Homo sapiens: one gene and its partners. The protein of the gene in region 2 purifies or fractionates together with the protein of the main gene of each other region. This does not show direct contact. Each region holds a gene or a part of one and is shown on either strand. Other genes may lie near its edges. The genes, in order: CWF19L2, WDR83, SIPA1L1 and CCT7.

Evidence for each region.
Region 1: the proteins of WDR83 (region 2) and CWF19L2 purify together in Homo sapiens (affinity purification with mass spectrometry; 4 studies listed by BioGRID and IntAct, with this or other methods). This does not show direct contact.
Region 3: the proteins of WDR83 (region 2) and SIPA1L1 purify together in Homo sapiens (affinity purification with mass spectrometry; 4 studies listed by BioGRID and IntAct, with this or other methods). This does not show direct contact.
Region 4: the proteins of WDR83 (region 2) and CCT7 purify together in Homo sapiens (affinity purification with mass spectrometry; 4 studies listed by BioGRID and IntAct, with this or other methods). This does not show direct contact.

The regions. Positions count from the first base shown.
Region 1 is NC_000011.10:107,440,815-107,447,833, reverse strand, and holds part of CWF19L2 (CWF19-like protein 2), read left to right. Parts: intron 1-4,784; coding exon 4,785-4,895; intron 4,896-6,211; coding exon 6,212-6,331; intron 6,332-7,019.
Region 2 is NC_000019.10:12,662,030-12,669,814, reverse strand, and holds the start of WDR83 (WD repeat domain-containing protein 83), read right to left. Parts: upstream 3,009-7,785; 5' UTR 2,823-3,008; intron 1,743-2,822; exon of another isoform or gene 1,457-1,742; coding exon of another isoform or gene 1,390-1,456; intron 1,308-1,389; 5' UTR 1,296-1,307; coding exon of another isoform or gene 1,198-1,295; 5' UTR 1,188-1,197; intron 688-1,187; coding exon of another isoform or gene 582-687; intron 462-581; coding exon of another isoform or gene 412-461; exon of another isoform or gene 400-411; intron 63-399; exon of another isoform or gene 61-62; 5' UTR 25-60; coding exon 1-24. Other genes in the region: WDR83OS (PAT complex subunit Asterix), read left to right, coding at 412-461, 582-687, 1,198-1,295, 1,390-1,456; MAN2B1 (lysosomal alpha-mannosidase isoform 3 precursor), read left to right, coding at 3,114-3,272, 4,010-4,112, 4,290-4,463, 4,830-5,023, 5,980-6,112, 6,353-6,498. UniProt on the Homo sapiens protein: Molecular scaffold protein for various multimeric protein complexes. Acts as a module in the assembly of a multicomponent scaffold for the ERK pathway, linking ERK responses to specific agonists.
Region 3 is NC_000014.9:71,315,680-71,323,483, reverse strand, and holds the start of SIPA1L1 (signal-induced proliferation-associated 1-like protein 1), read right to left. Parts: upstream 3,009-7,804; 5' UTR 2,981-3,008; exon of another isoform or gene 2,363-2,980; 5' UTR 2,303-2,362; exon of another isoform or gene 1,953-2,302; intron 1,811-1,952; exon of another isoform or gene 1,636-1,810; intron 550-1,635; exon of another isoform or gene 1-549.
Region 4 is NC_000002.12:73,244,292-73,251,310, reverse strand, and holds part of CCT7 (T-complex protein 1 subunit eta), read right to left. Parts: intron 6,768-7,019; coding exon 6,596-6,767; intron 3,550-6,595; coding exon 3,385-3,549; intron 2,321-3,384; coding exon 2,132-2,320; intron 1,493-2,131; coding exon 1,395-1,492; intron 1,006-1,394; coding exon 873-1,005; intron 86-872; coding exon 1-85. UniProt on the Homo sapiens protein: Component of the chaperonin-containing T-complex (TRiC), a molecular chaperone complex that assists the folding of actin, tubulin and other proteins upon ATP hydrolysis.

The DNA of each region.
Region 1 (7,019 bases), on a different chromosome or scaffold from region 2:
TGTTTCAATTAAATGATTTTTCTCTTGAATATGGGTCACATTTGCTTGCTTCTTTGAATGTCTAGTAACTTTTAATTGGATGCTGAACCCTATGAAACTTATATTGTGACTGCTGGATTTTGTTGACTTCTTCAGAGAGTATTGAGTTTCCTTTTGGCATACAGTTAATTACTTGTGAATTAGCTTAATCCTTTTCAAGGATTGTTTTTAAGTTTTGTTCGTATGCACCTAGAATAGCTTTACTCTAGGACTGGTTTAGCCTTTCTACTAAGGCATGACCTTTGTGGGTTCTCTGCTGATTGTCATGGATGTTCAGCGAGGTTTCTTTATTCTGGTTGGGAGGAACTAGAATGTCTTCCAGCCCTTTGTGAGCTCTGGGGATTGTTCTGCTTACAGCTCTTTGGTAATTGTTTTCTCCATGGTAATTTTTCTTTGCCTGACCTTGTGGACTCTCATCCTCAGCATGTTCAGCTTGGTCTTTCTTTAAAGACTCCAGGGGTCCTTTAAGTAGATTTCTGGCACCCTTTCTCTGTGTAACTTCCCATCTGTACTTTTGTTTCAGCCTTCACAAAGTTCAAATTCCGTTTCCTTTGCTCAGTGAGATTTTCATGTTCTGCTTGGGTTACCCCTCTATGCCACAGTCTAGAAAGTGCCTTTAGATAAAAAGCTGTAGAGATTGTAGTTTCATTTTTATTCCAATTTGTATGTATTTCTAGTTTGATGCCATTTATTTTGTCAAGGACAGAAGCAGAAGTCCTCAAGATCCCTTGAGTTTTGCTGGTAGCACTTTTCTGTCTTAGTTCCACCTTCTAGGTTTTGACCACTAGATAGAATTAGAGGTGTGGTTAATTCTGCAGGCTGCACAAGAGAAGGAGAGCCCTGAAGGCTGTGTTAGGTCAGGAGGCGTATTAAGCTTGATAGTTAATGAGTTCAAGGTAAAATGGAGATTGAAACTAAAATTAGCAAGAGAACTGAAGTCGTAGCATGGGGAGCATCAATTTTGCTGAAGTGGTAAGGTGAGTGAGTGCATAATTGTGAAAATGAGTATAGGTTGCTGCTTAAAAGTTTCTGACTAGTGCTATTGAAAGAGTAGAAAAAGACATTTCATTTAATTTCAGCTTGCATTTATCAAATGCTTATTCTTTGCCAGACACTGTTCTAGACATGGGGAATATAAAAATATATTTTTAAACCTTTGGGGAACTCATTTCCTAATTGGATAAATAGATACATAATATTAATAATATGATTTTGTAGTAGATTTTGTAGAAGAAGATGTTGGCTTTATTTTCTGTTGTTACTGAGTTTAGCATACCATCCAACATGATGCCATGGTAGTACAGGGTATTAAGAGGGATTTCATTTGCTAACTTGTTGATTAAATGATGCTTGAATTGAGACTAGATAGATTAGTAAGCATTAGGCAAATAAAGGTGTGCTTGGCATTTCATGCATAAGGAATTGCGAGAGCAGAGACATGGAAGTATGAGATAATATGAGTGTGAGTATGTGTGTATGTATGTAAATATAACTATAAGCAATTTGATAGTACTAAATTATAAAACAAGAGGAGGGGGTGAATGGAGATGAAACTGTAAGAATTAATAGGGCCTTGTAAACCAAGAGCTTTGACTTTATTCAGTAGGGAATGTATCATCTAATTGGGTTCAGCTGCATTTATTAGAAAATCTCAGAATAGCCATTGATTATACAAGATAGAAATTCATTTTTTTCTGATATGAAATAAGTCAGGTAGACAGTCTAGGGCTAGTATGGTCTTCTGGGACCTAGGCTTCTATTGTCTTGCTTTTCCATCATCCTTACAGCATTGCCTCTTAGTCCAGATAACAGGAAAGAAGATGCTCTTTTTTTTCTTAACTTGACTTCCAGAAAGTCCCATAAAATACTTTTGTTTACATCTAATTGGACACTTGATCATAAGGCTTCACTTTCTAGCATGGGAAGTACATTACTTCTCCAAATAAAATGGGATTCTGTTGGTAGGAAAGAAGAGGGATAACTAGCAGTCTTTGTAATGGGAAGCCCTAGAAGAGAAGTACGGTGGTCAGATGTTCCCTTTATATTACTCTAAATGTATTTGGGGTGAGGGGTTGGAGAAAGAAGGGGAGCAGGAAAGATGAGTCCAGGAGATTAATTAGGTCTCCTGGAATCAGTTGTTTAGGTGAGAGATAAGATCTGATCTAGGGCTACTACTTTTTTTTTTTTTTTAAGGCGGAGTTTTGCTCTTGTCCCCCAGGCTGGAGTGCAATGGCACGATCTTGGCTCACCACAACCCCCGCCTCCCGGGTTCAAGATACTCTCCTTCCTCAGCCTCTCAAGTAGGTGGGAGTACAGGCATGCGCCACCACATCTGGCTAATTTTTGTATTTTTAGTAGAGATGGGGTTTCACCATCTTGGCCAGGCTGGTCTCGAACTCCTGACCTCATGATCCACCCGCCTCGGCCTCCCAAAGTGTTGGGATTACAGGCGTGAGCCACCGCGCCCAGCCTGGGGTGCTACTTTAAGGATCAAAGAAGAGAATATTAGTTGGTATTTTGGTTGCAGGTAACAGAAACTAAATATAAATTGGATTTTGCAAAAAGGATTTATTATTAAAGTACAAAATTCTCATAAGACATATAGATGTAGGAATGCAGCTAGGCTTCAAGAATAGCTGGAATTAGAATTGTGAATGGTTTTTGCAATTTTCTTGCCATTTTTCATTTCCCCTACCCTGAGTTCTAGTTTTTAAAAAATTTTTGCTGATTTCTATTTCTCATGACAGAAATGGCCTCTCCCAATGCCTTCCCATTTCTTAGTTTTAGATAAGCCCATTTAGACCTGATTTCAGATTCCTGTGGAATGGCTCAGGTTGATGTGAATTGGGTCAGGTACCTACGTTTGAACTAATCAGTAGTGGCCAGGGATAGAGGTAGGCTCGTATGGTAATCATGTATTCACTCTATGGTATATTTAATAAATATTTTAAAAATGAAAATGGTAGGCTTGAATATGTGAGGTAACATCATCCTGAGTTTCTGACTTGGTTTAAGTGGGTGGTTGGTTGTTCCAGATAACTCAGTTCAATACTATACAAGGAGAAGTAGATTTTGTAGAAGAAGAGGATAGCTTTATCTTCTGTTCTTACTGAGTTTAGCATGCCATCCAACTGCAGTAGACAATTAGTCAGTGAAACTTTGGTTAGACAAATTTGAAAGATATCAGCACAATTTATTGTAGTTCAGGCGATCAGAATGGATTTAATGGCCCAAAGGGAATGTTTAGACATTGAAAAATGTCATGGGCAAAGAATGGAATCCCAAATAACAAGATATTTAAGGGCTAAGCAAAGGAGGAAGAGTTCATGAAGGAAATGGAGAAGAAACAGAGTGGGAGGAGAGCTGAGAGGTGTCATGGAAGCCAGGAAAGTGAGTTATCAACAGAGTTGCATTAAGCAGAGAGGTCTAGAGAGCTGAAGACTGAAACGTTTTGTTGAGTTCGGCACAGTGGAAGCCACTGGTGAGTTTGGAGAAGTTTCAGTAGATTAATGGGGACAGTAGATGTATTGTAGAGTTTTGAGAAAATGTATGAAAGTGAGAGTGTGAAGGCGGTGCATGTAGACTACTCTTTCAAGAAGTTCATCTGAGAATGGAAGCCGGAAGATTAATTCCTGCTAGAGGAGGAATATACGGGGTCAAGGAAGGTCCCCCTTCCCTCCTTAAAAAAAAAAAAAAAAGGGTGGGAAATGCTTGAAATTGTTTCTAGGCCATTAGGGATCTTTGGTTAATGCCGTGAGAGGAGAAGATAATTGATGGAGCAAGGTCCTGGAGGAACAGAAAGAGTTATCAAAATCTTTAGAGCAAGATCTGCCTTAAATAGGAGGAGTTAACTGGAAATAAGGATAGGCACAGCCATAAATGTTTTGGGCGGTGGGTAGGAGGATAAGGTGGCCCTAGTTTTCTTGATGAGGTAAAAGAAGACATCATTTGCTGAGAATATGGGAATTGGTATAAAGCTTCAGGAGGGTGTTGAAGAAGATAATGTTATCTGCAGTTTTAGATCAAGGGAAATCTCAAAATGTGAAACTTAGGGGCAAACAGCAAATTCGTTTACCTGGGTGGTGTTTCCCCTGTTCTAGTGAAGCAGAGATGTGAGTAACTACTTGACGTTGGTAGTCACTGAAGCTCTGTGCTGAAGTGAGGTCTCTACTTGGCAGTTCCCATTTTTGTTTTTTTGCCTTCTCTTGGCTTGATAATAAATGGATGAGAAAATAAAAATAATTTGGTTGTGTTTGGTGGGCTTAACTCAAACTAGTGGGTTTATATGTTTTTTCTTTAAAAAAATTTTTTTTTTTGAGACGGAGTCTCTGTGGCCCAGGTTGGAGTGCAGTGGTGTGATCTTAGCTCACTGCAACCTCTGCCTCCTGGGTACAAGCGATTCTCCTGCCTTAGCCTCCTGAGCAGCTGGGATTACAGGCATGCGCCACCACGCTTGGCTAACTTTTTTGTATTTTTAGTAGAGATGGTGTTTCACCATGTTTGCCAGGCTGGTCTTGTACTCCTGACCTCAAGTAATATGCCTGCCTCAGCCTCCCAAAGTGCTGAGATTACAGGTGTGAGCCACCACACCCAGCTCTTTAAAATTTCATTGCCATTTTGTAAAGGGGAAATACAGTGTAAGAATTTTTTTCTACGATGTTGAATTTCTACCACTTAACAGCACAGAATTTTTATATCAAAGTATGCAAATTTGACAATTTCACTTATATGCTAAATGTTCTTAGAGCTCTGAAGATGAGTGGGTTGAGGCTGTTCCATCCCAGACTCCTGACAAGGAAAAAGCCTGGAAAGTGAAAGATGAAAAGTCAGGAAAAGATGACACCCAAATTATCAAGGTAAGCAAGCCACTTGATTTTCCTTCCTTGCTTTCTTCCTTCCTTCCTTCCTTCCTCCCTCCCTCCCTCCTTCCCTCTCTATCCCTCCCTCCCTCTCTGTCCCTCTCTCCCTCCCTCCCCCTCCCTCCCTCCCTCCCTCCCTCCCTTCCTTCCTTCCTTCCTTCCTTCCTTCCTTCCTTCCTTCCTTCCTTCCTTCCTTCCTTTCTTTCTTTCTCTTTCTCTCTCTCTCTCTCTTTCTCTCTTTCATTCATTTTAGAGACAGGGTCTCACTCTGTTGCCCAGGCTGGGCCGCAGTGGCACAATCAGAGCTCTCTGCACCCTCGACCTCCCAAGCTCGAGTAATCCTCCCACCTCGACCTCCCTGGTAGCTGGGACCACAGTTGTGTGCCCACCACGCCTGGCTAATTTTTTTATTTTGTGTAGAGTTGGGGTCTCCCTATGTTGCCTAGACTGGGTCTCAAACTCCTGAGCTTGAGCAATCCTTCCACCTCAGCCTCCCAAAGTGCTAGAATTAGAGACGTGAGCCACTGCACCTGGCCTATCACTTGGTTTTAAAGAAAAAAGTATCAACTTTTGAGAATAAATGAATATGAAAATGAAAGATGATTAAAATTTCTTCAGGAGAACAATTAGACTTTGAAAACAATATACTTTAGGAATAATTTTGGCAGTACTGCTGTTTGCTGAATGTTTAGAACCCCCTTCCCCTTCTACTGTGAGAAAGTGAGTGTTCCTCTCTATTCTCGTTCCTTAGAGGCTTTCATGCTTTTGATTGTTGATAAGAAGTGGCACTTTCCCCTTATGTCCCTAAAGCCTTATACTGTATCTCTGTCTGACCCTTCTATAGTGAGTGGAGTTCCATCACAGTTTTTTTTCCCTTCACCTCATGCCTTAATTTTCTTAACAATACTTAACAGTTGAATAGTTCAAAAATTTTGGGCTATAGTTCATCTGCCTCAGGAAGAATGTAATTTGTCCACTGTTAGCCACAGGTGAAGGAAGAAAGGTGAACAGGAACTAAGTTTGATTGCTTGTTGTGTGCCAGGCTTTGGGCTGGATGCTTTAGATCTGTTATCTTGTTTACTCTTTAAAACAATCCTGAAAGGTAGGGATTTTATACCATTTTATAGAGGAGAGACTAAAGTATAGAGAGATTTAGAAGCTTGCTTCAAGTTATATAGCCATGTAGGACTTGTTTCAGGTTTGATTGCCTCCAAAGTCCCTGCTCTTATTACCAAGTGTTTATTAAATTCTAATCAGTTCAGATTGAAATGATGAGTGGATGACTGTTGATTTTATGTCTTTTTTTTTAACAGAGGGATGAGTGGATGACTGTTGATTTTATGTCTGTTAAAACTGTGTCATCATCATCACTCAAAGCTGAAAAGGAAACTATGAGGAAAATAGAGCAAGAGAAAAACCAAGCGCTTGAACAGGTAAGAGAATATTTGAAATGCTTTAACTTTCTAATTTACCTTTAATAAACTTACAAGACATTTATATAAATGCAGTTTAACTTGTAAAATACCATTTTATTTTTTATAGTATTTAATACAATTAGTGAGAACAACTATGAAATACATCAGTTTAAGAAAAATAAATTTCCTATAGGAAGTGAGTTTAAAGGTTTACTAGATTTATAAATCTAGGGCATATATAAAGTTGAGTGAATATTGAGTTTAATATCATTAAATTGAAAGTGAACTCACTCAATTTTTGTTTCAGTGTACATACTGAATTAGACACCATGAAAATACTTCCATTTCAAGACATCTAGAAATTCTGGTGGATATAATGTAAAATAAGCATGCTTATTTTATACTTTATTGTTGTCACTTTGCTAGTAAGGAAGCAATAGGAAATCTGTAGAGACCAAAAAATGAGGCAAAAGCATGAATCCAGAGAAGTAAGGAAGTGCTGAAGCTGATGACTTTCCTAGGGGCATCACACAATCCTGGTAATCTGGAATTCCAATTTATACTGTACCAGGAGCATATGTTTCTTTTCCAGTACTCAGTATCTGTAATTGTCAAACTTTATATATTTTTTTATCAGCCTAATAAATGGGTGAGAAATGGTATTTCATTGTTTTTGTTCGCATTTATCTGATTGCTACCAGAGAGG
Region 2 (7,785 bases):
CGGCTTTGGCTCAGGGAAAGCCATGCTCCCAGGACTCCTTCCTTGCAGCCTTAAATCGGTCTGTACGGAAAATTCCGCGCCTTAGAAACCCACGCTTGGGTGTAACCTTATTATTGTTCTTCCTGACCTACTTCCTGTTTATCACTTCCGGGTTCATCATTTTGGCATTTCGGTGATCGGGTTGGAACTATTGAAGCCCGCTTTCAGGTTCTTTTCCCCATTTTCCCTTTGAAAGGAAGACTTCTGGCTTCTCCTAAATCTCCGTTCTCTGGGTAAGGGGAGTCCAAGCCTCTGTCATGAGGAACGGAAATGCGAGGGCCTCGGGTGTTACTCTAAAATCCGCCCTCAGCTTGCACGCCGGAAGCTGCGATTCCTGCAGCGGAAGAGGCGTGATCTGGCCTTCGACTCGCTATGTCCACTAACAATATGTCGGACCCACGGAGGCCGAACAAAGTGCTGAGGTGAGGACCCCAGCGTCGTGGGCACGGGTTCGGGTTGTGGGTGTGGATCGGGGCCCTGGGAAGCGCCTGTCTATCCCGGGGGCAGGACCTGAGCGCCCCTGACCCTCGAGCCTGTCGCAGGTACAAGCCCCCGCCGAGCGAATGTAACCCGGCCTTGGACGACCCGACGCCGGACTACATGAACCTGCTGGGCATGATCTTCAGCATGTGCGGCCTCATGCTTAAGGTGGGCGGGGTTGAGCTTCTATGGGTGTAGTTGGACCTGAGAACGAGGCCCGGGGGCGGGTTTGGAATGAAGCGGGGTGTCTTGTCATTGCTGATGGGGCGGGACCTGAGATCGGCCGGGAGTGGGGCTGCGATGACGCTGGGCCGAGAAAGCCCCAGTCTTTGGTGAAGTCAAGGATTCGAGTCAGGTTGGGGATGTGGCAGATTGGTCTGCGAGTGGGGCCAGGCTTTGAAGCAACTTGGAGAGGAGTTGTGGAAAAAGGGCAGGGTCTTAAGCATGTGGGATGTCAGAGTCTCTCTTGGTCCTGAGAGACGCAGGCCAGACAGTAGGACTAGAAACCACGTATCTAGAGTATGCCATGAGCAGGTGGGACTGAGGAATTCCGGGTGGGGCAAGGTCCCAGCTGCATCAGATGGAATCAGTGGGCATGATCTGGTGTCTGGAAAGGTGGCTTCGGGGACTCATTGTTGTGCCTTTCACTAACCTGCCCACCCACTTACCTTTCCCTAGCTGAAGTGGTGTGCTTGGGTCGCTGTCTACTGCTCCTTCATCAGCTTTGCCAACTCTCGGAGCTCGGAGGACACGAAGCAAATGATGAGTAGCTTCATGTGAGACTTGCCCTACAGAACAAGTGACTCTTGAGTAAGGGGTGGGGGGACCCCAGCCTGGCCATCCTAGACTGACACCTCTCTCCTGTCTCAGGCTGTCCATCTCTGCCGTGGTGATGTCCTATCTGCAGAATCCTCAGCCCATGACGCCCCCATGGTGATACCAGCCTAGAAGGGTCACATTTTGGACCCTGTCTATCCACTAGGCCTGGGCTTTGGCTGCTAAACCTGCTGCCTTCAGCTGCCATCCTGGACTTCCCTGAATGAGGCCGTCTCGGTGCCCCCAGCTGGATAGAGGGAACCTGGCCCTTTCCTAGGGAACACCCTAGGCTTACCCCTCCTGCCTCCCTTCCCCTGCCTGCTGCTGGGGGAGATGCTGTCCATGTTTCTAGGGGTATTCATTTGCTTTCTCGTTGAAACCTGTTGTTAATAAAGTTTTTCACTCTGGCTGTCAGCCTCTTCTGTTCAGTGGGGTGTTCCTCCTACCTGGCGGGAAGGGCTCTAGCCCCATAGGCCTGGTGTGGGGCCCCAGTCTGGAGGCTTCTGGCTGTTCATTTGCTTACTTCATAAACCTTGTGTCTTAAGTCAGGTGCTAGGGACAAGACAGTGACTTCTGCCCTCTGGCAACTCACCAGATGGCCCTGCTGACCTAGATAATCTAGGCTTTGGTTTCCTTTTTTTTTTTTCCTTTTTAAGAAAGAAAATGGTCTTGATCTGTCATGCAGGCTGAGTGCAGTGGCACAATCTATGTTCACTGCAGCCTCAAACTCCTGGGCTCAAGCAATCCTCCCACCTCAGCCTGCCACGTAACTGGGACCACAAATGCGTGCTACCATGCCCAGTTAATTCTTGTTTTTTTTGAGACAGAGTTTTGCTCTTGTTGCCCAGGCTGGAGGGCAATGGCATGATCTTGATCTCGGCTCACTGCAACCTCCGCCTCCCAGGTTCAAGTGATTCTCCTGCCTCAGTCTCCCAAGTAGCTGGGATTACAGGCATGTGCCACCATGCCCAGCTAATTTTTGTATTTTTACATTTTGTGTAAAATTACAAATTTTGTGTTTTCAAACCCGTCTCTACAAAACAACCCATGTTGCCCAGGCTGGTCTCAAACTCCCAGGCCCAAGTGATTCACCAGCCTGGCCCTCCCAAAGTGCTGGGATTGCAGGCTTGAGCCACTGCGCCTGCCCTGGGCTTTGTTTTCTTATCAGAGAATGAACTGGTAGGAATTGGGAAAGGCATGAAAGACTCGGGGTCCTTCCCCACTTGTCAGACCCTCTTTTCTCTCCGGAACACCCAGGGATCCTTCTCAACCAGGCTGGATCCCATCCCTGGTACTCCAGGGGTATTTACCCAACGTCCCAATCCCCACAGTATAGGACTCTTCATCAGATCCTCCTCTTAGGCAAGCTAGGTCCTTCCAGGACCCTAGCGCTGAAGGTCCATGGGACGGACACCCTGGATTCCCATGGACACACTACACCGGCTAGGAAAACCCGGCCCCCTTAGGAAAAGCACTTCTGCTCCTACCGGCATTAAGAGGCATTCCGTCTTGGAATTCCGGCATTAAGAGGCATTCCGTCTTCATAGCCCGTGAGACGCCAGTGTCACCTTTAGCCCAACCAGTGCCCTGAGGGTGGCATTTTCCTACCTTCCTGTAACGACCCCCGGGATTGCCCAGGGCTACAGCCTCTCTCCCGTGAGCCTCCAGACCGCGCCCTGGCCCCGCCCCCCACCCCGATTGGCCCGGCCGGGTCTGGGGGCGGGGCGTTTGCCCGGCCTTTCCAGGGCCGGGGAACCCCAGGAGGAAGCTGCTGAGCCATGGGCGCCTACGCGCGGGCTTCGGGGGTCTGCGCTCGCGGCTGCCTGGACTCAGCAGGCCCCTGGACCATGTCCCGCGCCCTGCGGCCACCGCTCCCGCCTCTCTGCTTTTTCCTTTTGTTGCTGGCGGCTGCCGGTGCTCGGGCCGGGGGATACGAGGTGAGTGGGGCCTCCGAGCTGAAACGTACAGGAGGCAGAGTGAAACCCAGAATACAGTCTAGAGGTGTGGGTGGGTCTGTCCTGTGGGTGTCTAGTGAATGGCTGATGATATGACAGTGTGGTCTGAGTGCGTGCTTTGTGTCATTGCGAGGTCTGGCTGTGCGCATCTGAGTATAGGACTGTGTCTGATTGTACCTGCCTCCGTGTCTCCGGGATGCTTGCCTAGACTTTGTCTGCACTTAACTGTGGGATTGGAGGGGCAGGAGGTGGCAGGGGGTGAGCAGTGTATGTGTGGGGGGAGGTGCTGGCTGAGAGCTGGGACTCTGGAGTCTGCCTGAAATTCCAGCCTAGCTCTTACACTTCCTGAGTGTGTGACGTTGGGCAAGTCACCTATCCTCTCTAAGCCTCAGTGCCTTCATCTGGAAACTGGGGATAACATCACCCCACCTCCCACGGTGGCCGTCTGCTGTCGGCAAATGCTGAACAAACATCAGCTACTTCTATTATTATTTTCCCGGAGTGTGAATGAGAGCTGCCCTGTGGGGTTGTGCAAAGTGGAGTTGTATCTATGAGCACAACTATGTATGTGTGTGTCCTGCCTGGGAGGGCCTGGCCTCCTCTGCACATAGGCGAGATCAGGCCTCTCTGAGTCACTCACCTCTAGATCAAGACTTACTCTGCAGCCCCCGACCTCGGGGGTTATTGACAAGGTATGTGTGTTTGGGGTCCCTGTGCAGACATGCCCCACAGTGCAGCCGAACATGCTGAACGTGCACCTGCTGCCTCACACACATGATGACGTGGGCTGGCTCAAAACCGTGGACCAGTACTTTTATGGAAGTGAGTAGAGGATGGGGACTGGTCCCTGGGATCCCCATGGTCCCTGTAATCCCTCTGGGTCCTGGACATTAGGGTGGGGCCAGTGCTACCCTAATATCCAGGGTTTGGGCTCCTCTGTCTAGGAATAACCCCCTTGGCTCTGCTGTTCCCTGAGAGCCTTATCCCTGTTATCCACAGTCAAGAATGACATCCAGCACGCCGGTGTGCAGTACATCCTGGACTCGGTCATCTCTGCCTTGCTGGCAGATCCCACCCGTCGCTTCATTTACGTGGAGATTGCCTTCTTCTCCCGTTGGTGGCACCAGCAGACAAATGCCACACAGGAAGTCGTGCGAGACCTTGTGCGCCAGGGTGAGCCTACCCCAAGGAAGTGAAAAGAGGAAGCCCAGCCCAGCTTCTGCTTCTGCATCTCTGGTTTCTGAGATTTGTCATGCCACGTGCAAGCTGTATAACATGCGTGTCGCTCCGCCTGCCTGGACTCTCCATTTGGAGACCTCCTATACATCCCACAAAGCCCCACCTGCTGTGCATCCTCTGGGAAGCCTGCCATGCAGGGGGCCTCTTTCCCATATCTGGGAACTATGGCCTGGGAGCGACCCCTCTTGTCCTTCCGCCAGAAATGTGTACACAGGCAGGCTTTCACATTCCCAGTATCACCCACCCTACTCCCACTCCTGGCTCTGACCGCTGACCCTGACCTTGCCTGTCCTGGCACAGGGCGCCTGGAGTTCGCCAATGGTGGCTGGGTGATGAACGATGAGGCAGCCACCCACTACGGTGCCATCGTGGACCAGATGACACTTGGGCTGCGCTTTCTGGAGGACACATTTGGCAATGATGGGCGACCCCGTGTGGCCTGGCACATTGACCCCTTCGGCCACTCTCGGGAGCAGGCCTCGCTGTTTGCGCAGGTGCGACCCGGGACCTCTCTTGGGCCCACTTCTTCACTCACTCTGGCTCCTCCCTCGCCCAGTCAAACCCCGCCCTCTCCCTGCAATCTCACAAGGACCAGGCCCAGGCCTAGGCCTGTTGAAGCCCTGCCCCTTGAGTGAGCCGTAAAGCCAGTGGCTTTTGAGCTCTGGCCTCAGCCGGCTATGCCCAGCCCAGGCTGACCCAGCTCCGGCTGGCTCCGCCCTCTCCCCTAATAGGCCCCTCTTGGTGTTCTGGCCCCACCCACTAGCTCGGGTCCTGGCTCCTCCCTAAACCGGGTGGCAAGTGGATGCCTAGGCTGCCTTAAAAACAGGTTCATTACCTGTGCTCAGACCCCATCCATCCTCAGGCTGTGGAAGGGGGAACCTCATTCCTGGAGTCAGGCCTGCTCTGCGCTTTGACAGTGCTGGGGAGGTGAACCTGGGTTCTGATGTTGGACCCGCCCTCTCCCTGCTAGCCCAAGGTGGTGAGTTCTGAAACTTCCCCAAGCTTGGAAATAAGCTGGAGGCCTCTCTGTTTCAGCCCTACGTGTTTTTGTTTTTGTTTTTTGAGACAGGGTCTTGCTGTCATCCAGGCTGGAGTGCAGTGGTGCAATCCTAACTCACTATAGCCTCAATCTCCCGGATTCAAGCGATTCTCCTGTCTCAGCCCCCCTAGTAGATGAGACTACAAGAGCGCACCACTACGCCTGGCTAATTTTTAAATTTTTTGTAGACAGTCTGCCCGTGTTGTGCAGGCTGGTCTCAAAAACTCCTGGGTTTAAGTGATCCTCCTGTTTTGGCCTCCCAGAAGGCTGGGATCATAGGCAAGAGCCACCACATCGACCTAGCACTGCTTTTTAACCTGTGCTCTGACCTGCCCCTCCCAAGCAGAGGGGAGTTTGGTGGTGAGAGGGCTGGGCACTAATTCACACTGCCTTTTCCTCCCTCATCCCCAGATGGGCTTCGACGGCTTCTTCTTTGGGCGCCTTGATTATCAAGATAAGTGGGTACGGATGCAGAAGCTGGAGATGGAGCAGGTGTGGCGGGCCAGCACCAGCCTGAAGCCCCCGACCGCGGACCTCTTCACTGGTAGGGGGCTTGGTGAGGGCAGGGCCAGCCATGGTGCCACACACTCAGAAGGGCCCTGGGCTTGATATCTGCTCTGTTGTCACTGTCCTGGAATTCCTATAGTCTGGGAACAAAGGCCCTGCATTTCCTTTTGCATTGGGACACAAATTCTGAAGCCCATCCTGGGTGGGACATGGCCGGCTTTGAAACCAGGGAAGGTCTGGGTGATGGGCCACCCCTTGAACTTGGTGTGACCTGCAGGTGTGCTTCCCAATGGTTACAACCCGCCAAGGAATCTGTGCTGGGATGTGCTGTGTGTCGATCAGCCGCTGGTGGAGGACCCTCGCAGCCCCGAGTACAACGCCAAGGAGCTGGTCGATTACTTCCTAAATGTGGCCACTGCCCAGGTAACCCTGGTGTCCAGAACCTTCGAGTCCGGTATATACAATACAATGAGCTCTTTCCATGGTACAGGCATCCCCTAACACGTTCTCCTTATTTTTAATTTTTTTGAGACAGTCTTACTCTGTCACCCAGGCTGGAGTGCAGTGGTGCGATCTCGGCTCACTGCAACCTCTGCCTCCTGGGTTCAAACAAGCACATCCAGCTAATTTTTGTATTTTTGCACTGGGGTCTCATCATGTTGTCCAGGCTGGTCTCAAACTCCTGAGCTCAAGTGATCTGCTTGCCTCGGCCTCCCAAAGTGCCGGGATTACAGGCATGAGCCACCGCACCTGGCCTCTATTTTTAACATTTTTATTTATTTATTATTATTTTTTTTTTTTTGAGACAGAGTCTTGCTCTGTCACCCAGGCTGGAGTGCAGTGGCATGATCTCAGCTCACTGCAACCTCCGCCTCCCGGGTTCAAGCGATTCTCCTGCCTCAGCCTCCTAAGAAGCTGGGATTAGAGGCACCTGCCACCACACCCAGCTAATTTTTGTATTTTTAGTAGACAGGGTTTCGTCATGTTGACCAGGCTGGTCTTGACCTCAGGTGATCTGCCCGCCTCAACCTCCCAAAGTGCTGGGATTACAGGTGTGGGCCACTGTGCCTAGTCTATTTTTAACATTTTTATTGAGAATTCCTTTTTTATTTTTTTTAGACTCACTCTGTCGCCCAGGCTGGAGTGCAGTGGCACGATCTCGGCTCACTGCAACCTCCACCTACTGGGTCCAAGCGATTCTTCTGCCTCAGCCTCCCGAGTAGCTGGGATTACAGGTGCCCACCACCATGCTCGGCTAAGTTTTATGTCTTTTTAGTAGAAAGGGGGTTTCACCATATTGGCCAGGCTGGTCTCGAACTCCTAACCTTTTGACCCACAGCCTTGGCCTCTCAAAGTGCTGGGATTACAGGCGTGAGCCACCGCGTCCAGCCTTTAACATTTTTATAATTAAAAAACATTATTTTTTCACAGAGATAAGGTCTCACCATGTGGCCCAGGCTGGTCTCAAACTCCTGAACTCAAGTGATCCTCCTGCCTTGGCCTCCCAAAGTGCTAGGATATAGGTGTGAGCCACCATGCCTGGCATAACACGTTCTCCTTAAAAAAATTTTTTTTTCCTTTCTTTAAAAATTGATGGCTGGGCATGGTGGCTCACGCCTATAATCCCAGCATTTTGAGAGGCCGAGATGGGCAGATCATCTGAAGTCAGGAGTTCAAGACCAGCATAGCCAAAATGACGAAACCCTGTCT
Region 3 (7,804 bases), on a different chromosome or scaffold from region 2:
CTGATACGGACCAATAACAATGATAATACAACGGTAAGGACTGATAAGAGGCACATAGTCACATTATTAATCATGACAAACTTTCCATCAAATTCCACTCTCATACCATTTCAGCTCTCCTCATGCTCCCATTTCACAGCTCAAACAGATTTTTAAAAAAAGAAAAACAGTCATTTATCTAAAAATTCAGATTGCAACTTAAGATAGAACATATATACATCACAACTCAACCAAGATCCCCCCGAAGTCTACAAAACTGCTAATCTCAAGCAATCTTCAATCTATGACTTCAATAAACTCACTAGAAAGTGTTTTTTAAAAGTTCCTAAACAATGAAGATGGGGGCACTATACCAAAATTACACACATACTTCAAAGCAAAAGCAAAGCAAATGCAGAAGCCTGAAAATACTAGTGTAAGGACAGAGACAAAAGAAGAGTTAAATGAATCTCAGTACAAAGTATCAGAGAGGTGCTTTGCAATTATTACCTGGAGTTGAAGTCAACCTTGCCATAGACTCCTCCAATGAAATCACAACTATCACTGACTGATACTTCAGATTTTAAAAGTTCACTGTACCAGAATTGCAATTTCAAACTCGAGGAGCAGAAGCAGGAACTGCAGAGAAGCTAACAACAGCAACACCTACTGACTGTCTCAAGCCACTCACCAAACTTGTTCACTCAGTCAACTAGAAAAATCAAATGACAGTCAACTTCAAGAGTCCTTTACTTAAGCATTAATAAGAAAATTAGTTGTCAGAGACATAAAGCCATTCATCCCCCAAATCTCTTATTTTGCCTCTAACCATTTATGTGGAAACAATCACTCATCATTTTAAATGCACTGTTAATTGTTAATGCTTTAGCATAATTGATTCCATGGGAAAAATGTTTTAATATTAATATTGTAGTTAATAACTGGGATGTCATCTAATAGTTGGACACATCGGTGGCCATAATAAATTAGCTGAGACCTACTGTTATTACCACTGTTCCATATTATCCTCTTTTTTAAATCCTGGTAAAGGTAGCTTAATTGCAGCTTTCAAAAAACGAAGAGAAAAATGACAGTCGTTAAATCAGGATTATATAGAAAACTAATATTATTACTAAACTGGCTGCAGAATTCAGTATGATCTAACCTTGCACGTTTCCAAAAGATTCAGTCAGAGAATCTTTGCCTTGGACGGATACTCCATAGGAGAAAACAGGAGAAAGTTGACACTTAACTCCCACAGAGTACCAGCATAAAGACAATGGCTTTAAGAGTCTGACTCAGAGTTTCAACATGAAAGGTTTGCTTTATAGAGGAAACGCCAATCCCAGTCCATCCAGATAGACCTGGAACCTGATGAAAGTCGACACCTTTATTCTGAAATTTGCATCACATCGCTGGCTCCAGTTTAGAAACATGATCGTTTCACAGGTAGTATGCATTTCAGCGAATGCTGCCTCTAAACTACCCGTCAGGAAAAATAAAATCTATAAGGTAATCGTAGTCTAGGAGCCATCAATCCCCAAATGCTTCTCTTAGAAAACGAATGCCAACAATTTAGCTAAACATCTTCCTTGGAAGTGAGCCATTTCCCATGTCTCTCTGTTCTCCAAACCGCGATGAAATTTCAACCTGCCCAACACGATTACTGGTCCACCTAGAAATGCCGTGGAGCGATTTAAGAGCCTCGGAAATTTCCTTTAAGGTCAGGAGAGAAGCTGGTAACAGATGGGGCGAAGGAGGAAAAGTTCTTTTTGCGGCACCCTCACGCCTTCCCAGCCCTTTCGCGGTTTACTCGCTCCCCGGAAAGCAGGTTAGAGCATCCCAAAATTTCATGTCCCCAAGACCCCCAAAGGGGAAATTAACCACCCTCGGGCACCGAGCTGTTCGTCTCCATTTCCCACAACTCAACCAACTCGGCCTGCCTACTCCAGCTCAGGCTGCAAAGCGCTCACCCAGGTGACTGGAGGGGAAGGGTCGCCAGGTGGCGACCAGCTCAGCGGGGTGGACGCAACCGCCCGGACCGGGACGCGGGTCTCCTGGCCTCCCGCAGAGACGCCTGCCCAGTAGTTGTGCAGATTCGGGTTCTGGGGTGCGTGCGCGCGCGCCGGGCGCGGTGAAGCCGGACTCGCCCCCGCCGGGCTAAGCTACCAGCAAGCCACCAAATCGAAAATCAAACTTTAACCGGCCTCCTGGGGTCCTGCTCCGGGCCCTGGACCCCAACCCCGGCCAGAAACAGGGCAGGGGGCTGTCAGCCGTCCTGCACCCCCGCTCCCCCCAGGACCCGGGCGCGGGGACCACTTACCGCTCGGCCCGGCCTCCCGGTGCCGCCGCGCGTCCCGGGCGCGTCCGCCGCGCGCTCTCCCTGGGGAGAAAGAGAAACCGTGTAGACGGCCGGCGCGCGCTCACTCGCCGCCTCCTCTGCGGAGAGCGGCGAGGCCGGCCCGAGGCGGGCGCCGAGCGCGGAGCGGAGGGGGGCCCGAGGGAGGCGGGGGTGGAATCAGCCCAATTCCCGAGGCTGGCTCCGAGGGGGACCCGGAATACAGGCTGGCGGGGGGCCGGCGGGGGCCGAGCTCCCGGAGGAGGGGAAGGCGGAGGTGGCCCCGTCCTTGGGCATCAACTATTGTCTAGGCGCCCGGGCCCCCGCTCGCGCCGTCCCCGAGGCTCAGCGCCCCCATCCCGCCCGCCAGCAGAAAGAACTGAGGGGGCGGCCAGTACGGGAAGCAAGTGCGGGGGTCCGGGCTCCGAAGGTCCAAGGTGGGCGCGAGGTTGCCGGGGGGGGGATGAGGAGGTGCGTACCGCATGGGGGAGGGGACAGGTAAGTGCGGACGGGGGCGGGAAGGCCCCAACGACCGGTGGGGGAGGAAATGGGGAGGGAGCCACAGAGGCGGGAGGGAATGGAGTGGCTGCGGGGGCGGCCTCTGGGGCCCAGACCTGGCCCTCCCCGGGGACCCTCCAGCCGGGGACTCGGCGCTGCACTGACTTTTCGCTCACTCGCTCACGCACGCACTGAACTCGCTCACAAAGTTGCCGGCAGTGGCGGCGCCTCACTCGCCCTTCCCCTCCCCGCCCCGCCTCCCGCCCCATTCCTTCCCCTCCTTCACTCCTCCCTCTCCCCCAAGTCTCGGGTGAGATCACCACGGAGCGGCTTAGCGCGGCGCACAAGTCTCGCGAGAGAAGCGGCGGCTGGGCCCTGCAGGCGGAGGAAGTGGAAAAAGTCGCGGGAGGGTAGGGGACCGCGGAACTTCTGGTTGCTATGACGACGGCAAAGCCCTGGATTCCTGTCTCCTGCGGAGAGCAGAGGCTGCAAACGTGGGTGCAGTTTTCAACCTGCCCGGCGCACTGGCGGTGGGGAAAGCTAGGGGTGGTTGCGGAAGGATAATTTTTAAGCCGATTCAAGAGGGCATCTCGAGAGGACCACAGTCATGATATCTGGCCAAATTTGGCAAATGAGACTAATGTATTAAGAGGTTCTGGGACAGGTTTCTGCCTTTCTAGGCAGCACATATCTGCACCCCAAATTTCTACTATATATTCAGTTTTTCGGCCTTCTCTTTCAATCTAATTCCTCCATCCCCACACTCCCCATGCTGCCTCCCTCCTCCTCTTCTCAACTCGCAAACACACGCAGACTGGGCTCCTTCAGGAACTGGCTCATTCATCTCTGTATTCTCAGCGCCTCTATAGGCTTGGTCCATACTACATATTGGCCACTTTTTTGACAAGTTGAACGCAACAGTCCATGCCTGTCCTCAGTACTTGCCTTTGGCCCTAACCTAGAGAGTTCAGTCAAGTTTGGACTCTATCAAGCTACCCTCCCATTTCTGTTAACACCTTGTCTTTTTCAATGGTAATAATCTCTGCTTTCTCCATATTTTTCTCGTAAAAACCCTATTCACCATGGTGAGGGGAACTTTTTTTTTAATCATTAGGCATCCGCAGACGCCTTTATACGTACTCCAAAATGCTAGTAAGGATGAAGATGAACTCTCCTCAGCCCGTGTCTTTTAACTGTAGAAACTTTTCTGAGGTGAGGGTTATTATATACTCACTGCCTAAGTAAAATGGATATTATGAATAGAAGTTAAACTTTAGATTTCAAAATGAATGAGTAAAAATAGATACCATTGTATGTGGATTATATCTCAATTTTTAAAATTCCTATCCATGAACATGGGGAAACCATTATTTAACTCAGTCCCACAGAACTAGAAACCTAAAGCATAACCTAAGCATATGAGGACTAGGCAGTCAAAACTTGTAAGTCACTTGCAAGTTTAAATCCTGTCAATGAAAGTTTGTGTATTAGAAACCTAAGTGATACTAGACAAAGTCAGCAAACTAGGGTTTACGTTTTTCTGTGCCACTAATAATTGAGTCTCCTTGAGAAGTTATTTAATCTCTCTGATTCTTCATCTGTGGGGGGTACCCCACATGTTAGGTTATTACAGCTTTAAAATTCTATAGCTGGCCGGCATGGTGGCTCACATGCATAATCCCAGCACTTTGGGAGGCCCAGGTGGGAAGACTGCTTGAAGCCAGGAGTTTGAGACTATCCTGGGCAACATAGAGAGACCCTGTATCTACAAAAATAAAAAATATTAGCTAGGTATACTGACATGCACCTGTAGTCCCAGCTATTCAGGAGGCCGAGGCTTGAGAATCACTTGAGCCCAGGAGTTAAAGGCTGCAGTGACCTCTGATCACACCACTGCACTCCAGCCTGAGCAACACAGTGAGATCCTGCATCTAAATATATATACACATATGTATGTGTGAGTATATATATATATATATATATATATATAATTTAATATAAGAGCTCTTAGACCTATAAAATTTTCCAATAAATAACAAATCTTCCTTTTACAGCAAATGATAAAAAAAGTTTCATCTTATAGTAGGTCAGTTTCACAAAGAGTAGCTATATGTTGACAATTTTCTTTAAATGTTGACAATTTTATTTTAAAATTTATCTTGTCCCAACTACAAAAACAACAAAAATATTGACCATGTTACAGTAATTTCAAAGGTAATCTATAGTTCATGATTTGCTTTTACACTAACTCAAAGCAGATTCCTTGTTATTTAATAAATACTCTAATTAAAACCAAAGACCCAAACTAAATACATCCATACTCCCAAAATAACTATAAGGAAAGAGGGAGGGAGGGAGGAAGGAAAGGAAGGAAGGAAGGAAGGAAGGAAGGAAGGAAGGAAGGAAGGAAGGAGCGAAGACTAGATCTGTGGAAGGAAGGAAGGGAGGGAGGGAGGAGGGGAAGGACGGAGGGCCTCAGATTCATTTACTGGTGTGTTTAATATCACATTTTCACAAAGAAACACAATGGAACATCACCATCAGTCCTGTGAATCTGTTTTAAGGAACCATTTTTCATAACATTGCAAAATATTATAAATCAGTTGTTGCTCATTTGTTCTGGCTTAGCTTTTAACATAATTTTGCCCTTAAAAGATGGCTGCCAATCTACATCCACCAACGCAGTACAATTTCAGGACCATCTGTTTTATGACTCCCAGATAGCCATTTGAAATAATTGACCCAAATGCTAGCCAAATCTATTAACATTCTTCAGTGCTTCATATAAGGCTCAAGAGATGGGTGTTGGCCTCAAATTACAAAAATAACCTCCCTAATCTTCAGACATAGTAAAATAGTAGAAATTGTCCCAGGGATCTAAAACTGCTTTTTCAAGGCCCTGGGCTACTATTTATCCCTCACTGATGGCAGAACTTTCATCCGTGTTTCTAAAGGAGATAAAAAGTGAAAGCTACCAAAGCCTAGTTTCCAACTGCACATTCTCTAGGTCAGTCACTCCTGCTGTATCTTCCTGACCTTCCTAGGTTTCAAAATAGCAGATGTCAGGCAGCAGAAGAGGGAAATGCGGAATGGAGAGTTTGCCAAGAGCACAGACTAGATCTCAGTCCACTTCCTGTCCACTGTCTTGGCTCCTCTACCCATCTCTGCTCAACCCCTTGCCTTTGCCCTCCAACACAAAGGATATGTAACCTTTCTAGTGATAAGAACATCTAGTCATTTGCTATGTTGTTCCCTCCCTATTTGCTTCTTATTTCGTTAAAACCCAGGTGAATTCATTTCCCTCTGGTTATTTACCTCTACTCAACAAAACACCCTAATGTATAGTGTATACCAAATATAGAATGAATTTTGACACAGAGGCCTACCATACAAATTTTATGTATTTTTTAATATTATAAACACTGACTCACATTTGCATGTTTTACATTTAAAATCTGATTTAACTGGCCTATTCAGAACTCCAGTAGCTGTACATCTGCAGGGCATTATTCTAAGTGATATTTAGAAAGATTACTCTAAATCATTACAAAGGTCCAAAGTGCCCTCAAAATTATTCAGGATTAAATGATATCCCATGTTGTTTTAATTTTAGGGTGTTATTATTTTAGCCTTATTGATGTAACTCTGTTTACATGAATACTGGATTCCTTAGCAAATGCCCCTTCTCTCATTTACATAGTAGTATTCATTACAAGTTTAAAACACCAACTACTTTATAACGTTGTTATAAATAATTATAACGTTCTGTTAATCAATTAACAGCAAAACTACTATACTTCCCTGTGCTCTTCCCTCCTCTTTAAAGGACTGTTTCACATCTTCTCCTCCTTAATCAAACCTCTGCCTAGTACTTCTAGCTAATGGCCTTGCTCCCTCTTTTGTTGGTAAAATAGAAATAATCAGAAGAGAACTGAACACACATACCCTCTCTATCACTCTTGTCTACCAACCTGCCTGCATCTGTCTGCATATACTCCTCTGTCCTTCCTGTCATTTATGAACTCTTGGTGCTCTTAGCCAAGATTAGCCTCGGTCTGTGCATTAGTGCCATCACCTCTAACTCAGGGACATTGATTCAGCAACTGTCCCCACTCTCTCTTGAATCAGCAAATTTTCCTTCTCTACTGCTTCACTTCTAAGGGCTTACAAGCATACTGGAATATCTGCCGTGGTAAAAACTAAAATGCTTCCTAAATTTTATGTCTCCCCCTGCTTCACTTTATAACTGGAATCTTCAAAAGGCTCTTCCATGCTTGGTGTCTTCAATTCCTATCCTTCCCTTCCCATGAATCCACTCTGAGCAGCCTTTCACCCCCACTACTCCACAGCAACAGGTCTTCTCAGGGGCATCAGTGACTGCCTTATTGCTAAATCTGGTGCTCAACTTCCAAGCTCACCTGGCTGGAGCCCTCAGCAGCAGGGAAGAGGTCAACCATGCTGGTTCTTGAAATGTTTTCTTCCCTTGGCTTCTGAGCCAAGAGTCTATCCTAGTTCTTATCCTACCTTTCTGGTCTTTTTAGTCTTGAACCTCTCAACATAGGAGGCTCCAGGACTCAGACTTTGGACATCTCTTTATGGTCTCTTTTCACTCTGTGGTGAGCTCACCAGTCTGATAGTTTTAAATACCATCTATACATTAAATACTCCCAAACTTACACCTCCAGGCTAGTCATCTCCCCCATCTCCAGATTTGTACATCCATCTGCTACTCAACATCTGCAATTGATTATGTACTAGGTATTTCAAATTTCACATGTTTAAAACTGATGAGCTCCAAATATTCCCCCAAAAACCAGTGCCCTCCTGAACTCCAGATATCCCTCTCAAAACCGGTTCCCTCTGGGAGGCTGAGGTAGGTGGATCATGAGGTCAAGAGATCGAGTCCATCCTGGCCAACATGGTGAAACCCCATCTTTACTAAAAATACAAAAATTAGCTAGGCATGGTGGCGCGTGCCTGTAGTCGCAG
Region 4 (7,019 bases), on a different chromosome or scaffold from region 2:
TTCCTGGAATAGTCCTTGAGTAATCCCGCAGGTACTTGGAGAGTTCCATCTCAATGGCCCCGCCACCAGCCACCACTGAATCATTCTGCAGAGATCAGACCACCTCTCAATGTAAGAGGGCCCCTGGTCCAAGCTTCCATGCTGGGCCACTCAGTAGGTCCCTTCAGCCCAGAAAGAGTGGTTCTTCATTCCTTCCTCCATCCCAAGCCCCAAACGCCCAGACACAGCCCCTATCTAGAACATCCCAACTTCAACCTGGTGAACCTTATGGTTTCTGACTATTTTCAAGGTCACCTGCAGCTCAAGGACACTGGCACAATTACTGGAATATCTGACTACATTAGCTCCAGTTTGCTAACAAAACGAAGTCTTTTTCTTCTGCTTGCTCTGTTGCCCAGGCTGGAGTGCAGTGGTGTGATCATAGCTCACTGTAACCTCCAACTCCTGGGCTCAAGGCATCTTTCCACCTCAGCCTCCCGAGTAGCTGGGACTGACTACAGGCACATGCCACCATTCCTGGCTAATTTTTTTATTTTTGTAGAGACAGGATCTCGCTATGTTGCCCAGGCTGGTGTCAAACTCTTGGTCTTATGCAACCCTCCCATCTCGGCCTTCCAAAGTGCTGGGATTACAGGTGTGAGCTACCACGCCCGGCTAAAAGAACAAGTCTTAGCTTTCAAGGCAGGATGACCTATTTTTGAGAAACTGAGGCTCAGTTTCTCTACCATTTGTGGGGCAAATCAGGGCTCACCACACCACCCAGGAAAGGGCAGGTTATATAGAGAAGGAATCACCACACAAATCCAAGGTCTGATCAGCTAGGGAGATAGGAGAGAGTAGGCTGTGCAAGCAGGAGGATATCAGCCCAGTACCTTGATGGCCCTCCTGACGATCATGATGGCATCATGCAGGGACCGCTCTGTCTCCTCCATAAACTGCTCGGCGCCGCCACGGAGAATGAAGGTGCATGTCTTGGCCTTGGGGCAGCCAGTAAAAAAATTGTACCTATGCCCAGGATTAAACAGTACACACATGAACTCTTGTCTGCCACCATCCTACTGTATTGTCCTCACTGCCAGCCCCCCCAACACTCAGCAGCTGCTCTTACATTCTTCACTCAGGTTACCCAATCCCAACCTTATAGACATTTTCTTGGAAAGGTCTGCAGCTGTACCACTAGGGCATAAAAGATTGTGGAGTCAAGGCTTTTAGATCTTCCTGTAATCCTGTATATTATCTGAGCTCTTTATGGCTCAAAGGTGAGACTCTGTAAAAGCTGTATACCACTTTGTACACAAAGGTGAGACTTTGTAAAAGCTGTATACCACAGCCAAAAGATGGCAGAAGACCAGACCCAGGCAGGTTTGTGAGCTCGGCCTGGGCCCACGGCTCACCTCTCGCCTCCAATCTGGGTCTCTTCAAACACCTGGCATCGACCCAGCACATCTGCTGACAGAGCATTCACACTGGTCTGGATTGAGCCTCCACAGGCCTAGGGAGCAAGGAAGGCAAGATCTAGCAGTGAAGGTTCCCGAGGCCAGGCAGCTTCCTGCCACCTCGTCTCAAAGCCAATTCCCACGCATGCCCCCAGAGCCTCTACATTACCCGCCCTTTCCCTTGACTTCCAGGCGACCCTTCCCCCTCTCTGAAAGAGCAAAAAAAAAACAAAATAGAACTAAAACACATCAAAGGCAAACAGAAGAAGTTAAAAGGAGATAGGGACCCATTCAATTCAGCTTATACTCCCTCCCCTAAACTAGGGTGGCACTGGGTCCAGCAACTGAACTCAGGAGTACTTTAAACCTAAAAGTATCTTTTGTGGGATGCTCATGAAAGGGAAAAAATCTGGCTGGAAGAATCAATATTTGAGTTTGTCCAGCTAATCATAGCATTACTGCTAGGTTCTCTCACAAACCAGATTTCTGGACTTGTTTTGGTTAGACTAAAGTAGTTTGTGCTACTGGGCACACACACATGGAAATGGAATGTGTCCTGGAAAAAAAAGAGTTAAAAAAAAAAAACAGGGCTCAATTCACACGCCAACCTGACAGTACACTCTGTTATACCAGGGGTCAGTGAAAACCCTTCAGGGCCACAAAGGCCGAGAAGCAGCCTGTGAAAATCTGGTTACCATCATTGTCCTCTTCAGATCCTCCTCAGGTACTCGGCCAGCACAGAACATGTCCCTGTCAGCAAAGTACTGGGTGGCCACATCCCCAATGGGGAGTTTGGACAAGACAACTTTGGCTCCAGAATGATGGATCTTCTCTAACTTGTCATAGAGAATGTTCCACTCAGCATCAACAATTGCCTGATAATCCTGGAGAGACCCAGAAAAGGATGAGAATGCTTTGGGGTGAAGGTTGACATATACGGTAGGGTAAAATATACCCATCTGCCCCCACCAAATAAAACATGCTGATTCATCTGGGAATTAACAGAGATAAACAGAATAGCTACTCCTCAGTCCAAGCAAATAAGGACCCCATGAGATGACTTAGGAATCACCTGAAACTCCCCAACACAAAAGCAGAAAGTAACCCCAAGGCTGAGAACCACAGCTGGTGCTGTCCAGATGCGAGAAATAGTTTAAACTGGCTGAGGTCTAGACTCTTCTGAGGTGCTGGATTCATGGAGTTCCCAATAAGACCCCTTTGGCCGGGCACAGTGGCTCATGCCTGTAATCACAGAACTTTGGGAGGCCAAGGCAGGTAGATCACCTGAGGTCAGAAGTTCAAGACCAGCCTGGCCAACATGGTGAAACCCTGTCTCTACTAAAAATACAAAAAAAAATTAGCTGGGCATGGTGGCACATACCTGTAATCCCAGCTACTCAGAAGGCTAAGGCAGGGGAATCACTTGAACCCAGGAGGCAGAGGTTACAGTGAGCCGAGATTGCACCACTGCACTCCAGCCTGGGCAACAGAGCGAGACTCCGTCTTAAAGGAAAAAAAAAAAAGACCCCTTCCCCAAGAACTGCTCAAAGGTGGGTGACATGGCTACCTCCAGAGGTAGCCTGGGTAACATCAACAATGAGAGCACACCTGTCTCTGCAGCACTAGGTCTAGTCTAGAAGTGGAGGAACTCACACTTGCACCAACAAGAGGAACCAAAATACCGGGCAGGCTATGTAGCTAGAGAGTCCCTGCCATCCCCTTCCCCAGGACCACAGCGTATTTCAACAGGTGTTCCCTATCCAAATTTCCTCAGGTCAAGGTCACTCAGGGAGAACACAGAGTATGGAAAGAAGGGGGCCTAGTACTTAGACATCAATATTCAGGGGGGCAGGAAGAGAAAGGGGCCCACAATAGCCATGAAGACCCAGGGCTCTGGCTCAGAAAGCTGCCCATTTCCATGCCCCCACCAACTGGTGAACCCACCTACCTCAACTGTGTGGACTCTTATCTCAGCATTGTCTTTCTCAGCTTTCAACTCGAGCTCGACATTCAAAAGGGCAATCTTGGGATTGTGGTACTTTTTGGGTTGCATTTCAAACCCAGCGTAAGAGAAAGTCTTCTTGAATGCAACACCAGCTACCAGCTGAGAATCCTGTTTTAAAAAAACAAACACTTTAATGGTTTGGTACTAACATGAAATAAAATCAAGCTAGTTGTTTGCTGGCTAGTGCTTATCCATTCCTGTGAGCCTGAGCTAATCATGTCTTTATTTCACTGCTGTAACACAGCCTTTCTGTTATCATAAAATCGAAGACAAATCCTTTTTTTTTTTTTTAAATAACACAACATATTATTTCAGTCACCCCTTAAGCATAAGGAAAATCATCTGGTTAGCAGAGGCAAAGCATGGTAAAGGCCTACTGGGCTGTCCTCTAAGACTGGCCTCTGCAGCACTGGCCGATGGATAATGCTGTACAAACTTCCAAAAAGTATGCCAGAAGAGGAGCCAGGTGTTTACAAAGAAGGCAAAACAAAAGCTGTGCAATGCTACCCTCTTCTATGCCCCAGCTCCCAAATCTCAAGTATCCTCCTGTACACCTCCATGTACCCATAATTTGCACTGCACCCTCCACCCCCACACCCCCAACAGCATGGATACTATAGCCTTGACGCTTCCTCCCTCCAGAAGATGATGCCAAAAGGTCTTAAGAATCAGAAATCCCCTGCATAATTTCTAAGCTATCACTGCAGCTCCTCAGACCTCAATCCCTCAAGGTAGGGATCTTCTACCACTTGTTCTGCAACAGAGCTTCTCTGTGGGTTGGATTTAACAGCAGGGCATAATAGAAAGCACACTGCACCCAGGGCTGACTCAGCACTACCGTGAGACTTAGGTTCCAATCTCAGATCTTTTCCTTACTAAATGACCGAGTCATTTCCCACACCATAAAAAAGGGTATTCAGTTCAATAACCTTTAGTTTCTCTGCCAGTGCTCATCTACAATTCTAATCTATAATACTGTAACCCATGGGTGAAGAGTATCTGTCCCCAGTTCCTGCATCATTCAAATCCACAGCTTCCTAAAGGGAGTGATGCCTGAGCTGAATGACAGATGAGCAGAAATTAGTCAAAGAGAAAAAAGGAAAAAAGGGGTTCTCCTAAGAGGTGGGAGGCAGTGTTGTGGAATCAGAGAATGAAAAGCCATTTGAAGTTGCTAGAATTTAGAGGGTAAGAACCAGCCAGTGAAGAAGAGAGAGGGGAAGTAGGCAGGGGCCAGTTTAGAAGGATCTTACAGGCTTTGTTAATGCCTGGCTTTGTATAGGGAATGTAGATATCAGAAGGCTTTACGCAGAAGAATAAAGTAGGAAACTTCACCCTGCAAATAGTAAATAAGTACAATGGATTTAGGGGATCCAAGACTGGAAGAGGGGTGGCAATAGTACCAGAAAGAGTAAAAGAGACAGACTCAATAAATAATTAGGAAATCACGAGGTAAAATGGAACAATGGTAATTGACAGGCTGGAGTCAGAAGGGTTTTCAAGGATGATCCCAGATTTCTGGTTTGAGTGACTGAATAAACGGTGGTGACACCAACTATGACAAGAAATACAGAAAATGCTATCACAGGAGTGGAGGACAAGATAAAGCGTTTAACAGCAGTTAGACACAAGAAAGAGCATGAGGCTCAGAGGAGAGGTGAGTACTAAAGATATGGATCAGAAAATTCCCAGTTAACCCTGGTAACAAGTAAATAATCACTACCACTATTTATTGAATTCTGGGTCAGGTTTGTATGTATTTAACGAATGTAGGACAGTCTCGGAAAAACGCAAGTGTGGCTTAGAGTCCCTGGCTCTCTTGCCAGGTAAGATTATTAGTCCTGATTTCTAATCTATGTAGATTAGAAATGGATGCCATTTCTAGATTAGAAGTGGATGCCAATCTAATCTCAACCATTTATGGAAGTAGGAAGGCCCAAGAGAAGATGAAAAATCGCTACTAAAGCAGTGAGTAAAGACAAAGTCAGCAAGCCATGATGAAGATAGGGAAATGGCTCAGATGACCTCCAGGTTCCTCACAGCTTTATTACATACAGAGAATCTCAGCCCACTGGTCTGACATGTGCCACAATAGGAGGGGAAATGGCAAAGTGGGAATGCAATTTGGGAGGGTAAAATTTAAAGAGAAGGGCCAGGCTATCTTTCAAGCTGGTCCTCCTCTATCCAAATCGCTTCAGTTGAGGTCACTGACGAAGAGTAATAAGTAAAGCAGGCCAGAGACTGAAAAGGCCAAAAGCAGCATGGAGATACCAAGGACGTTTCCAGACAGATACTACTGTGTTAAAAAGAAGGAGTTGTGCTGTCCAAGACAGTAGCCACTAGCTACATGTTGCCATTTAAATGGAAATAAAATTAAGATTCAGTTCTTCAGTTACATTAGTTGCATTTCAGGTGCTCAGTAGCCAAGTGTGGATGGGGCTATCATATTGGACAGCGCAGATATGTAACAGTCCCACCACCCTACAGAAAGCTCTACTGGAGGGTGCTGAGTTAAGAGCTACACACGCTAATGTGGATCAATTTCTAAAATATGTTGTTAAATGGACAAAAGCAAGCTACAGAACACTATATAAGCAATCTTTTGTCTTTAAAAAACAGTATTTACATACATGTTCATATATGCACAAAGTAATTCTGCAAGGATACACACAAACTAATAGTGGCTGTATATGGGGCAGGGGTAGTGCATGAAACACTTTTAACTTTAGGCCCCTTCACAGTTTGAAATATGTATCATCTATTCAAGATAAATGAATGAAAGAAGGGCAAGCTTAACAGTATCACTTAGGAGTAAGCAGTGAACTGAAAAATCCCTCTCAGATGTATTAATTGGGAGGTCATTGATGATTTGAGCTAGTCCTACTACCCCTCCACCACCCACTGACACAGAGAACCTGAGATTCTGAAAATCATACAGTCCAATTTTCTACTCTGCTGACAAATAATATCCACAGAGGTTACCAAGTTCATCTAGTAACAGCCTCTAATGGCAGTATGGAAAGTACAATGTAAGTCTGACTTCCTGCCTAACATGCATTCTCTTTATTCCTGTAATGAGTACCCCTCTGCCATATGAAGCTGTCTGAAGGGTCAATATGAAAGCAAGAGCTGTCTAGGAAGGCCACAGCAGGCTTACCTCGAGGGCTCCACCCTGTACCTTCTTGATTCCAATCATTTTAAGCTGCAGCAAATCATCGAGCATCATCACTGCATCCACCACCATCTTAGCAAAGAAAGCTTTCTGCTGGGAGATCAGCTTGGAGCTCAGAGCGGTCATGGCACACTTTTCCAGCAGCTTCCTCTGCTCCCTGGGACACAAGGGCAGAATCTGCATCAGGTCTTGAAAACCAAATCCCTCTTATCTGATTCTACTACAGTGTGGAGGTAGTTCCCTTCCAGTCTCTAAACTCAGCCCTCTCCAACTTCACCTTTTGTATCTTTAGGGCAGATTATCAGTGACAGATGGTGACTGCAGTCAAAGATCTCATATGTGGCAGCTTTTAAACTACAGTCGACAGCTTCTTTTGTGCTCTGTGGGCTGGGACACAGCCAAGGGTCTG